Linked DNA regions of Homo sapiens: regions 2 and 3 are each reported to be linked to region 1. The links are microRNA targets in miRTarBase. Many come from high-throughput screens and were not tested one by one. Region 1 holds a microRNA gene; each other region holds the end of a gene's coding sequence.
Evidence for each region. The annotated mature microRNA hsa-miR-4429 reads AAAAGCUGGGCUGAGAGGCG and lies in region 1 at 1,367-1,386, opposite strand. An mRNA with a match to its seed (bases 2 to 7 or 8) in the 3' UTR can be bound and repressed. Matches are read on the target gene's strand: a 7mer-m8 pairs with bases 2 to 8, a 7mer-A1 pairs with bases 2 to 7 and ends in A, and an 8mer does both.

Region 1 (4,150 bases):
AGCAATCCTCCCATCTCGGCCTCCCACAGTGCTGGGATTACAGGTGTGAACCATTGTGCCCAGCCAATAGCTGGTGTTTTCTTGAAGATTTCCTGGGCCTCTCCAGGGGGTTTTTGTTGTTGGGGCATGTTCCATGGTATTCACAGCAGAGTTGTTTGAAGGGGCACGTGCTCGCTTATGTGGCTTAGGTCCACGCTACCTGTAGTCCTTCGGAGGCAAGCCAGGCTGCCAGCTGACTGTCTTCCACCACAAAGCCTGTGTTCTTCTCCTGACCCTTTGTTCTTTGCACAGCGTACTGTGGCTCCAGTCCAAGTACACAAACTTCCATGTAGTTTAAAAAGAATCAGTTTAACTGTTGGTGGTTAGACAGATTGGTATGTACCTGTGTGGAGAGCACTGTGACCCAGCAAAACACTTCAGGGCTAAGAAGACACGAAACGGTGGCATTTGCCATCTGACCCGGCAGGCGCTGGGGCAGATGAAGCTCCAGTTGGAAGGGCTACTGCTGAATTTTTTTTTTTTTTTTTTTTTTGGTTGTTGTTGTAGCTCTGGGAGCAGATACTAGCTCTGAAACTTTTCCCCTGGCTGGCTTGGCTGCCTCTCCCTGCCGGGCAGGGGCCAGGAAGCCTGGGTGTCAGGCAGACCCGAGCCAGGCTCTGCACAGCAGGGCATTACGCGCCCCACGCATCCTCTTCCATCCCCAGGCACAGATCAAAGGCGCAGCCCAGGAGGCGGGAGCCCCTGCACACTTTCCACCTCTGCTGGGCTTAGCCTCTTGGCTGGTTGGTCTGTGGAGTGCCTGAAGTGACCAGCTTTTTGTAAGGTACGGTTTATTTGACTTTGCAAGCGAGCACCTGCTTTGGGGGTTGGAGAGGTTTGTGTTGACTTACGAAGACAGCTGTGGCCTGTGTTCAGCAGAATAATGGCAAAGCATTGGCCCTTCTAATAAGGTGCAGGGGAGCAGTAAACCGAGACAAGTCCACTTAATGAACGGGTGTCCTTATTTTTATTGTTTGAAATGATATCCAAAGGGATTGCAGATAATTAGTTTGTGTTCTTATGAATGATAGGCTAAGGAGATTCAAAACACTGCTTGGGCCCTGCCTGGTTGGTTCCAGAGAGAAGGTTTTCAGTGGTTTCTGCTTCCCTGGCTTTATTCTGAAGGTCCTTCTCTTCCATTCAGTTCTTACTGCAATCGGAGGGGACATAGCTGATGGCTCTGTAGTTCCATTTGAGAGCACTTAAAGATATTCTCCAAAGAAACACTCTCTGACATTCTGTGCACAGATGTAGAGCAGCTCGGGGCTGAGCTGTGGCTGTGGGCCAGGCAGTCTGAGTTGGAGAGACAAACAAATTAGACACCAGTCGCCTCTCAGCCCAGCTTTTCTCCCTTCAGTAACACCTGTGGAGTTTATGAGTTCCTCTAGGGAAAATCGGAGAAATCTACATGAGAATGATGTCTTGTTTCCTGCTGGGAGGACCGTCAAAGAGTTTATAGGAGACCATCCTGCAGTCTCAATGCGTTTATTGCCGTGTCATATATTGGGGGCTGACTATTGCCACATTACTGGAGCACCCCATTCCCATCCTTCCTCAGCTGTTGAAAGTGAGACAGGTTGAGGACGCAGTCCGGAGAGTGTTGCTTTTTTCAAGTCTTGTTTTCTCAAACTTTGGACTCACCAGAAGTAAGTCACCATGCTTCTGTGTTGGCTGGGGAATTCTTCCAGTTAGAATTTAGTTGTAGGGAAGTTAGAAGAGGAGGGAGCATGGGTCAGTGATGTCTGGAATTTGGGGTGTTCTAGTGAGATTTGGGGTGGGGTCATGTCCCTGTGGCTGGCCAGGGTAGTGGCCCTGAAGGGCCAGGTTGGCAGGGCTTCTAGGAGAAGGCCATCTCCCAGAAGGAGATGGAACCCCAGGTGGGAGGGTATGTGGTGTGTTTTGGATGTGATTCAGAATGGAGGCAGTGAGGCAGAAAGGGAAGGGAAAGGGAGGCCGGGCAGGAAGCCAGGGTTGGGGTTTTGCTCTTATAGACTTGACTCCAGACCATGGCCCTTCCTTCTCTGCCATGGATCCTTCTGGAGGAGAGGGTATCACACCGCTTGAGGCTCTGTGCACAGGCGGGTTCTGTGGGCATCCGCGAGTGAGTGGATGGCAAGTGAGAGGGGGGCCATGGGGATCGGAACACTTGGCATCGTGACCTCTCAGCTCTCTCTTCAGACCCCCATGCACTACTCTTCTCTATGACAGTGAGACCACCACTGCCTCCGACTCTTTCCAAAGCCCGAGGTCAGCTAGGCTCCTCGTGCTACTCACCCTGCACAGAGGCAGTCTTTAGTCCTCTTTGAGTCTTGGTCTATTGCAGTATCCTCCTAGAAGCCTTCCTTAGGAAGCCGCAGGAATCTCAAACACAGCCTCATCAGCCCTGCCTAACTCCTTTGGTGGCTTGACGTGGTTAATTTCAAACACCTTAGCAGGGCTTAGGCTGAACGGGCCCCTCGTTGCCCTCCTACCCCCTGTCCCTGCATACACCTCATGCTGGAAGGACCTGTGTTGCCCAGGCACACAATAGGTGTCTCGCCCTTGGGTCAAGCCGATGCCTTGTATACGTTCTGCCTGGAAAGCCCCTTCTTTTCAGACAGCAAACCTGTACTCAACTTTGATGACTGAGCCTTCCATGAGGCCCGCCAAGACTGACCTGATAGAATTTTCCATTCCCTTCTCTGTTTCCCTCCAGGCCTTCTTGCCCCCATCTCTTCTATTTTGCATTACACTGCTGACCTGCACTTCCTGTGTCTCGGTGAGGTTCTTCAGGGCAGGAACTGTGTCTAGTTCAGTTTCACCCTTAGCAACAAGTGGTAATGAAATATTTCTGCCAAGGATCCAATTCAGATTATGTAAGCATTTACCTTTGTTTAAGGCAAAATCCTGATTCTGGAAGAGGAAAGTTCTTTGCTTCTCACAGGGCAGGCATAGAACAGGCCAGAAGCTGTCCATGTGTGGCTTGGGAGAGACCTGGCTATCTGTACTTGAGCCCTGAGACCCCGAAGGCCCCCGGCTGCATCTGCTCTTGGAGCTTGGGGTGGCCTGGGTGGTGGTCGAGTAGGATCTGCAGCGTGGGATCATCGGCAGAGTCAATGCCATTCCCTTGCAGATCCACTCTCCCGTAAGAAACTGTTCTGGGCTCTGAGAGGAACGAGGGGAAGAGGGGAGATGGGTGAGCTTCCTTGCTGCATTTAGCAACTCAGTCCCTGGGGGAGGTGTAGACACTGACACACTCCCTGTGGCCCCAGGGAGAACAAACCCAGAGCCCAGTGAGGGTGCAGTATGAGCAAAGTGCTGGGGCGGGGGGAGGGCAGAAGAGGGAGCAGTTGATTTTGGCTTAAGAGTAAACTGAAGAGAGAACAGACACGGGGCGGCTGAGCAGCAGTGTGTTCATGGAGAAAGAATCAAAGCGCACATCTTGTACTTTGATGCCCATAGGAAGGGCTCTCCTCTGGCCCCTCTGGCTTTGTTTGGAGCAGAAAACAACAAAGTGAGTTCAGGTAATACCTGGGGCAGTGGGAATTAGCTAATTAGTTTTCTGGAATTCTAACAGCGGTGGCATCCCAGGGGCCTAAATTAAAGCCGCAGATGTGTTTATTTGGTACACCTGGGGCTTTAAATGCTAATCCAAATGCTTTCAGACAGGACCTCAGTCTATTTCTTGACAATCCTCTCTGTAACCTTAAGCATGTGGTCTTCCTTTTCCTCGTCTACTGTCTCTTTTTAGGGGTTGTTTTCTGGGGACCTGCAGTGTTCCGGGCACCATGGGAAGTAAAGAGGTGACTGGAATAGTCCCTGCTGTCAAAGCCCTTCAAGTTTAGTTGGGAAGCTGGCAGAAGGGGGGATAAGAGACTAAATGATATATTATCTGCTCAGAGAGGCACGTTTCAATAGGTGTACTCCTAAGGAAGCCAGAAGTTTAATTAATTCCATTGGATAAACTACTCTGTGATAGTGAATAAAATTAAGGCAAGCTTAAGACTTAAAATTAAGTCTTTAGTTAACATCTAGAAATTAGAATTATGGGCAGTTAATTCCAATTTTAGAGAGGAAACTGGAACTTATTAACATCTATTTTATGCCAACTGCCCTGCATGTTAATTTAGTC
Region 2 (4,000 bases), not on the chromosome of region 1:
GTGTGTGCCTCGCAACACTCACTGCAGTAGGTTTGTTTTTCCAAAAAGAAATTTAATTTAACCCAAGTGTACACTGTCACACTGTAAACACATGGGGCACCAAAAGGGTGGCTTATTGAATTTAATGCCCTGGCAAAGGTCACCTTTTAGAAAAAGCCAAAAATGGCTGGAATCTTTCCTGATAGCTCTTCAGTCAGGCTTTGGATGCAGGCAGATGTGTTTATTTTTTCAGAGGGAGTTCCTGAGGACCCATCTCAAGTTCAGGCGCTGGGCATCCCCCTCCCATCGCCCTCTTGTGCTCTCAGAGACCTCCCTCCTCCTCCTCCTGGGAGGTCACTGTCCCTGGTCACCCAGGTGGGCCCCTGAGCCAAGCAAACTCCCTAAAGCTGGCGGTCTGGGAGGGAGGGCCTGGGACCCCCACTGCCCGCCCCTCCAGGCTAGAGTGTGTGGTGCTTTTCTTATAACTAACACTGCCTTTCTCTGCCCATTTCCCTCAAAGGATGGCATGAACTGGGTCTGCAAAAATGTCAATGCAAAGAAGAAATAAAATCTAGACGAATGGAGATGCAGGAGCTGCGGGAGCCGAATTCGGTCCTGAAAAACACTAATTTGCTGCTTTCTGACCAAATGTTTTTCCATCTGTGTACAGCTCCAGCTGTTTGAAGAGAGGGAACAACACGGTTTAGAAAGAATCCCCATTCCAGCAGTAGATTTAACTGATCTCTGAGGTTCAGTATCATTTTTCAAATAAAGGAATTATATTATTTCCTCTGCATAATTGAAATAGTATTAAATGTCTCAAAGCACATGATTAGAAAATGAGATCTTTTAAATGAGCAAGAGATTGCATTGCAGTTTAGACAATTCCAGTGGGCTTTTTTTTCCTCTCAAAAAAAAAAAAAGAAAAAGAAAAAGAGGAAGAAGCAGCTTTGCTGAGTTCATTTATTTACTGACCCGTCCCTTGCATTCCCTCCATGGTTTTGAAACCACAGACAGTGTTTGCTGGTGCTGTCAGTGATTTTTACCGTCACTAGCCCAGCCAGGCTTCAGTCTGTCCGACAGGAAGCTGCTGGGTGGGGGTGGGGGGAGAAAAGGCAGATAATTAAACCATCTCATCGTCTTGCAGGTCGGAGACTACGTATGTAATCCTCACTCTTTGGACAGAAAAAAAAAAAAAAGTCTTTCTTGCAGACAAGTCACTACAGAAACATACCCCATCCCACCCACCCCTGCCTCTGCCCCAGCCAGCCACACAGAGAAGCAAATTCTTATGACTTTTGACTGTAATGACATCTGGAATGTAAGGAGAGGTGGGAGGTTTAATTCCAGAAAAATTACAAGGTCCTTAAAAAGCTCTCACATCGAGGGCTCAGGCTAGCGTAAACAGGCTTTCTCCAGCTCAGTGGAGCAGTGAGCAGCCGACTCTGAGATTAGCTGGCTTCTCCACGGCCGTCCTATAGACAGGATTTCTAAAGCTCAAAGAATTCTGTGTTTAAACGATCACAATAGGCCGCTGCTATCAGATTTTAGAAATAAATGCAGCTTTACCATGAACCTGCTCCACTGAGAAAAGCCAGGCAGATCGATTTTTAGATCAATTTTTACAGTGCTGGCAACTTGGTGGTGTGGGATGCTCCTGGATGGAGAGGGTTTGCTGCTGGGGAGGACATGGGTGTGTGTGTGACTGCAGGGGTCGTGTCCAAGGAATCAAGAGTCACCCCAGCTGCTGGGCTCCTCTGCCTCTCTGCAGCAGAATGTCCGTCCTCTGTTGATTGATTGGAGAGGAATAGCAGAACATTTCTCCTGCCCCTCGTTGCAAAACGAGCTTGTTTCCCTGAACCTCAGAAATCCTCAGCTTCAAACATGGGGAAACAGGCCAGAGCATTGCCCGGCTCCTGAATTAAACTCTGTTCTGGTGCCTGAGCTCAGGGGTTTTCAGAGAATGAATAAGAGACTGTCCAGTGACTGGTGGGTCCCTGGGGGCCAGCTGCCTTCTCATCCTGGGAGGTGGCCCTTCCCAAGCCCATCAGGGCGTGTGAGCAGACTGAAGGGGCCGCTGCAGCCCCTGGCCCTCAATACCCAGCTGCTTCTGGCTAAGAGTGCAGCAGAGACTGAGGCATAGCCAGCTTCAAAAGCGATCTGACATGAAAGTCATTAACAAAGCCAGCCGTGAAAAGGTGCCCCAGAGTTGCTGTGGACAGACCTGTAAGGACTTGCAAAACAAAAGAAAGTGAGGGGTTTTTTTAACCTCAGAGCTAGCTGCTCTCTGCAGCCTCCTCCACTGGCTTCTCTGGCTCACCCAAGCTCTCCCTTACAGAGGCAACACAGAATTATAAGGAATCAGAAATCCCCCTTCTACCAGGCTGCAAATGTGGCTCTAGCACTTGCAAATTGTTTTTTCTTCCGAATAGTTCAGCAGGGACAAGTTATCTGAGGGGCAAAATGCCTGCTTGGAGGTCTGCAATTTTGGAACACTGCAGTATGGAACTTTGGCATTGGAGGGTCTGTAAAATATTTTTGTTCTTTTACCACCAACTTAGGGGACTGTTTTAAAGAGCCATCCCAAGGCCTCTCCTAGCAGGCAGAAGCCACTCCTCTGATAACGGCCTCTGTAAATGTTCTGATTTGCTCTCAGCTGCAGAGACACAGAGACACTGCAGATGTCACACGCTTTCATCTTCCCTTTGAGCCCTTTTGAACCCTCCTGGGGCTCTGGGGTAGATGAGAGAAGCCTGAAAAAGGCAGAGTTTGAAAGCTCCCATTTAAAAACAAAATACTTTTTAAAGCCCTCTTGCCTCTTCCCTGCCCACTCCTGCCCCCTGACCAGAAGACAGAATTTGAAGCTGGAAAGGGAAGACCCCTTTTCCCCTCCTCCTGTCCCCAGTGAGTCTTAGCGAGACTTTTGCCCTGCGCACAATTGCATCTGAATGTGCGGGGGAGAGGGCTGGGGGCCGGAGGGCAGGCAAGGCCTGGGGGGTGCTCGTGATATGTGCTCAAGCCAGTTGTGGGAAAAACTCGAGTCCTCCCCTCCTCCCGACCTACCCCGTGTGGCTGCTTTTGGCTGGATTCCCTGCACCCAGTGCAACACACCCTTTCCCCTTCACTCTCCCTTGGTTACTATGGAAACAAGGGTGTCATTGATGTGGGCTGAGCTGGGGAACATGTCGGTGCACAGCTGAAAGTCAGCGATTATGCCGGCGGTTAGAAATGTGCCAGGGTTAAAGGAGTCCGCAGCTCCCACGGCTGCTGGGAGGACATGGTCCTGCCCCCTTCCTTCCTCCCTCCCTCCGTCTCCACTTCTCTCTCCTTGCTTTTGACAAATTTCTTTATTCCCCTCTGGACTAAAGTAGTGGCTATTTTTGTGCCACTCTGCGCCCCACCCTCACTGTTGGCCGCTCCTTATCCGGCCTGGCCTGGAGGGTGACACCATGTCACCCTCACCAGGACTCGTCTCTCCATTCCCGTCAGAGTTTGCTTTGATTTCCCTTTCCTTTCCTTCTCGGGGACCAGTTCTTACTTCCTTTTATTTTTAGCTCTGCACTCCATGTGGTTTCAGGGTTCAGTCTGATCCATCAAAAGGTTCTTTTTTTATAATCCCTTTTGAAAATGATAATCAAAGGAAGAGATGTGGTGTTTGGTCATGTGGAAAACTCAATGTATAATTTAGACGTCTGTCAAAAATCCGACAAATAAAATTTAGCTGGAACGAAGGCAGCCTGGAATGTGTTGTGTTCTTTGCTGAAGCTCAGAGAGGGCCTGAAATGTGTTTGTCCTTTCAGGGGTTAGCTTTCTTCAAGAGGTTTTTTCCAGAAGGATATATATATAAAATAGGATACCAACAATAGCAATAATAGCCCTTCATTAAGCCCCTCCTACGTGCCGGGCACTTCAGATACATCGTGGTGAGCATTAGTCCCCCTTTGCAGCAGAGGACATTGAGACATTTGCCCCAGTTAAGGAATTTGCCTGAAATCACAGAGCCTTTAAGTGCAGGTGGGGC
Region 3 (4,000 bases), not on the chromosome of region 1:
CTCAGCCTCCCAAGTAGCTGCCACGACAGGTACATGCCACCACGCCTGGCTAATTTTTGTATTCTTTGTAGAGACAGGGTCTTGCTATGTTGCCCAGGCTGGTCTCGAACTCCTGGGCTCAAGCATCCTTCTGCCTCAGCCTTCCAAGTAGCTGGGACTACAGGTGTGTGCTACCATGCCTGGCTCCTGACAAACAATCGTTTTGATAATTAATCAGATTCCTGGAAGTTTGTGTAGATGTGGGGCTGGAGGCTTGCTGCTCAACGCTACAACTGTACCCCTTAAATAATTACTGAAACCTCCCTTTTCTCCTTTTCATTACCGCCTCCATCCGGGCTGCATTATTTCTGGCCTAGACTGCTGCAGCAGCCTCCTTACTGGCCTGTCTGCCTCCACTCTTGCCTGCTCCAAATCACCCTCCCCACAGCTGTCTGATGGACACTGTAGTGTACACATCGGACCACAGTGGCCACTTCTCTATCTAAAAGCCCTCTACAGCCCCCACTGCCCTCAGCAGGAAGTCCCAGCAGCCCCTACCACTGCACAAGGCCTTCCCTAAGGGCGTTTGCTTCCTCTCCAGCCTTGTCACTTGCCCCTCCAAGCAACAACCATCTTGGTTTGCCTGGGACTCTTCCAGTTTTAGCATTGAAACTCCCATGTCTGGGAAAACTCAGCCCAGGCAAACCAGGACAATTGGTCACTCTGCCCTTGCCCCTGACTTTATGCTCTGGCAACACCGGAGTTTCTTCCAAGCAGTCGCTATAGCTTTGCTCATGCTGTTCCCTTGGCTGGAAAGTGACCCCTTCTGTTCCCTAGTGAATTGATTAGCAAGTAACTGAAAATCTACTTCGGTGGCTAAAACAAATGCAGATGTATTTTTTTTCACGTAGCCAGACATTCAGAGGAAAATGGTGGCTGGCATGGGATCTACAGCTTGATGAGGTCTAAGCTGACATCTCTGTAATTATCTTGGCCACAAGATGGCTGCCTCAGCTCCAGGCATCACATCCATATTCAAGGCAGGAAGAAGGGGAAGGGGCAGCACCAGCTATGTCAGATCTTTCTCATCAGGGAAGTTTTTATTTATTTATTTTTTTTCTGGAGGATGTTTTACATTGCAGGGCAGCAGAGCATGGTGGACAAGAGCACAGGCCCTGGAGTCAGATCACTAAAGTCTGGATTCCGGCTCCACTACCTTCTAGTTCACACATTGGGAAGTCACTAACCCTGTCTGGCCTCAGTTTTCTCATCTGTAAAATGGGCATGATGTTAATAGTAACCTACCTCATGGGATTGTTTCTGGGGATTGAGATAATGTAAAACCTATAGGATAGTGCTTGGCACATACTAAGTGCCCAATAAATGTTAGATATTATTTAACATTGCTTAAATAACATTGTAATATTAATTAACATTTTAATTAGCTCCCTAACTACAAGGGATCTGAGGACAGCAAGCATTTAGCATTTATAACCCCCAATATAAAGACATACACAAAAGAAGATAGCTGGGAATGAGACCGGGTGTGGTGGCTCACACCTGTGATCCCAGTACTTTGGGAGGCCAAGGCGGGCAGATCACCTGAGGTCAGGAGTTTGAGACCAGCCTGGACGACATGGTGAAACCCCATCTCTACTAAAAAAATACAAAAAAATTAGCTGGGGCCGGGCACGGTGGCTCACGCCTGTAATGCCAGCACTTTGGGAGGCCGAGGCAGGTGGATCACGAGATCAGGAGATCGAGACCATCCTGGCTAACACGGTGAAACCCCGTCTCTGCTAAAAATACAAAAAAAAAAAAAATTAGCCAGGCATGGTGGCTGGCGCCTGTAGTCCCAGCTACTCAGGAGGCTGAGGCAGGAGAATGGCGTGAACCTGGGAGGCGGAGCTTGCAGTGAGCCGAGATGGCACCACTGCACTACAGCCCAGGTGAGAGAGCGAGACTCTGTCTAAAAAAAAAAAAAAAAAATTAGCTGTGCATGGTGGTGCGTGCCTGTAATCCCAGCTACTTGGGAGGCTGAGGCAGAAGAATCACTTGAACCTGGGAGGTGGAGGTTGCAGTGAGCTGAGATTGTGCCACTGCACTCCAGCCTGGGCATCAGAGCAAGACTCCGTCTCAAAAAAAAAAAAAAAAAAAAGAAGAGGATAGGTGGGAATGAAGTTTAGATTAAGCAAACTTAAGAAGGACTACGTTCTGTACTTGGGTACCTTCTAGTCAAATTTTAAGACCAAGCTTGGGCATCATCACCTCCAGGAAGCCATCCTGGATTCCTCCCGCCAACTGACACTGCTTCAGGTGTCCTGTTTCTATGCTTCTGGTCTGTATTTCTGTTTTCAAATGTATACCAGGGAATTTAATGATCTATTTACTGGTCTGTCTCCTGCACAGCTGGGGTACCCCCATCCTGGATTCCCGGGTCTGGGTGGTGCTGGGCTCCCTGTAGCTCCCACTGCTTGTTGAGTAAGTCAAGTCTTTCCTGAGACTTGCCTTGGCATCATGGGGGTGTGGGAGTCACACCATGGTCCCCACTCCCAGGGGACAAAGTCTGGTGGAGAAAAGGGACAACTCTTGGGCCAGTCTGAGGTAGCTGCAGCCGAGGGCTCTCCAGCGAGGGGTCCAGAGGCTGGGCTGGGGGCACCCCCACAGAACAGGACATTCCCAGGAGCAGGCCAGGCCAGAGGCCCCTATCATCAGGGTCTGATCCCCCTGGCATGTCCCTCCCTGGACATTGGATCTCTCTCATCTCTGGCTGCCCCTGTCATCAGGGTCTGATCCCACTGGCATGTCCCTCCCTGGACACTGGGTCTATCTCATCTCTGGCTCCTCTTGGCCTCTTGTCAGCCTCAGGAGAACTCTCTTCTCCTGGATCAGGCATTGCCAGCTATCCCAACTCCTTCCTCTCTCTGGGCCTCAGTTTCCCCACTTGTCTAATGCAATGAAAGCATATCCAGCTCTGACCACTGTGATTCTGTGTGGAAACCATTGCCTTCTTCAAACGTATGTCTCCTGAGGATGATGCTGGGGTCTCTTCCTCTTCCTGTACCCTCATCATGCCCAGCACAGGACTGGACACAGGGGCTGGCTCACTAAACACTTCTCAAAGCAGAGAGCCCCTGCCAACAGCAGCCATGGGGTCTGTGCTGCGGGGTGGGGGTGGGGGGTCCCTGCTAGGGAGCCCCTTCCCCAGGAGTGGTTGTCCCTGAGCTTTGGCCATCCTCCTGTGGCCTGGTCTCTCTGGCCTGGGGGACGCTGCTTTTGGGGAGACCCTGTCTTCCACCTGCTGCTGGGGGGCTGTGAGGACCTGCCAGGCCCCTCGGTGGAGGTAGGATCGGAGAAGCGAGTGATTTCATCAGGGTCTCACCTGTTCGCAGCTTGTGAGATGGAGCGGGGAAGGTGTCTGATGCGTCCTTCACTCCCATCCCCTCCGGCTTCACGCAGGACTCCCTGGGCTCTCCACCCCAGCCCCCTGCCTCCCATTAATGCCCCAGGAGGCTCCTTCCTTGGCCCTCTCTCCCGGCCTCTGTTTCCCCACCTGTCTAATGCAGGGTGGGGGAAACTGGCTGAGTGGGGTCTCTCTTTGGCTCCATAGTGTGGAAAGGGGCAGCACCAGAGAGGAGGGAAGCAACAGAAGCTGCACAAATCAAGGATCCAGGTGGCCCGAGGAGAAGGAAGTTTATTGCTGTTGCAGGGACTCGCTGCCGCCGCTCCCAGCAACAAATCACAGCTGCATTTTCTGGAGGAGCAGAGAACAGTGTGAGAGACTCAGGGCTGTGCCACCTTCTAGGGTGGCACAGGGCTCTGCCCGGAGGGTGGGTCCATGGGGGCATGGCCAGCAGCCCCCGGCCTTCACATGCCAGCCTTGTCCCTGTTCAAGGGGTCTGAGGCCCTCAGCATTTCAGGCCACTGTGCAAATGGGTCTTGGAACACACTCTGTCCCCAATGGGGAAGCCCCCAGCCCAGGGTGACCCTCTGTTCCCCTACTCTCAAGATGAGAAATGGC

Region 2: miRTarBase lists ARL3 as a target of hsa-miR-4429. Seed matches in the 3' UTR shown: 7mer-m8 at 925-931 and 8mer at 1,540-1,547.
Region 3: the mRNA of CTRC is a reported target of hsa-miR-4429. The part of its 3' UTR that is shown has no 7-base or 8-base seed match.

Annotation. Positions count from the first base shown.
Region 1 is chr2:11,539,286-11,543,435 of GRCh38, forward strand. It overlaps MIR4429 (microRNA 4429), which reads right to left and starts at 1,392; the gene lies at 1,320-1,392. The region is part of intron 1 of GREB1 (growth regulating estrogen receptor binding 1); the gene reads left to right.
Region 2 is chr10:102,673,441-102,677,440 of GRCh38, reverse strand. ARL3 (ARF like GTPase 3) reads left to right here. Exons shown (of 6, transcript NM_004311.4): 6 at 500-3,710. The coding sequence ends at 547. Among named protein-coding and RNA genes, the nearest start is that of TRIM8, 31 kb to the right of the region's middle. RefSeq lists an enhancer at 3,087-3,636.
Region 3 is chr1:15,446,308-15,450,307 of GRCh38, reverse strand. CTRC (chymotrypsin C) reads right to left here. Exons shown (of 8, transcript NM_007272.3): 8 at 1,066-3,733. The coding sequence ends at 3,719. Among named protein-coding and RNA genes, the nearest start is that of CELA2A, 8.4 kb to the left of the region's middle.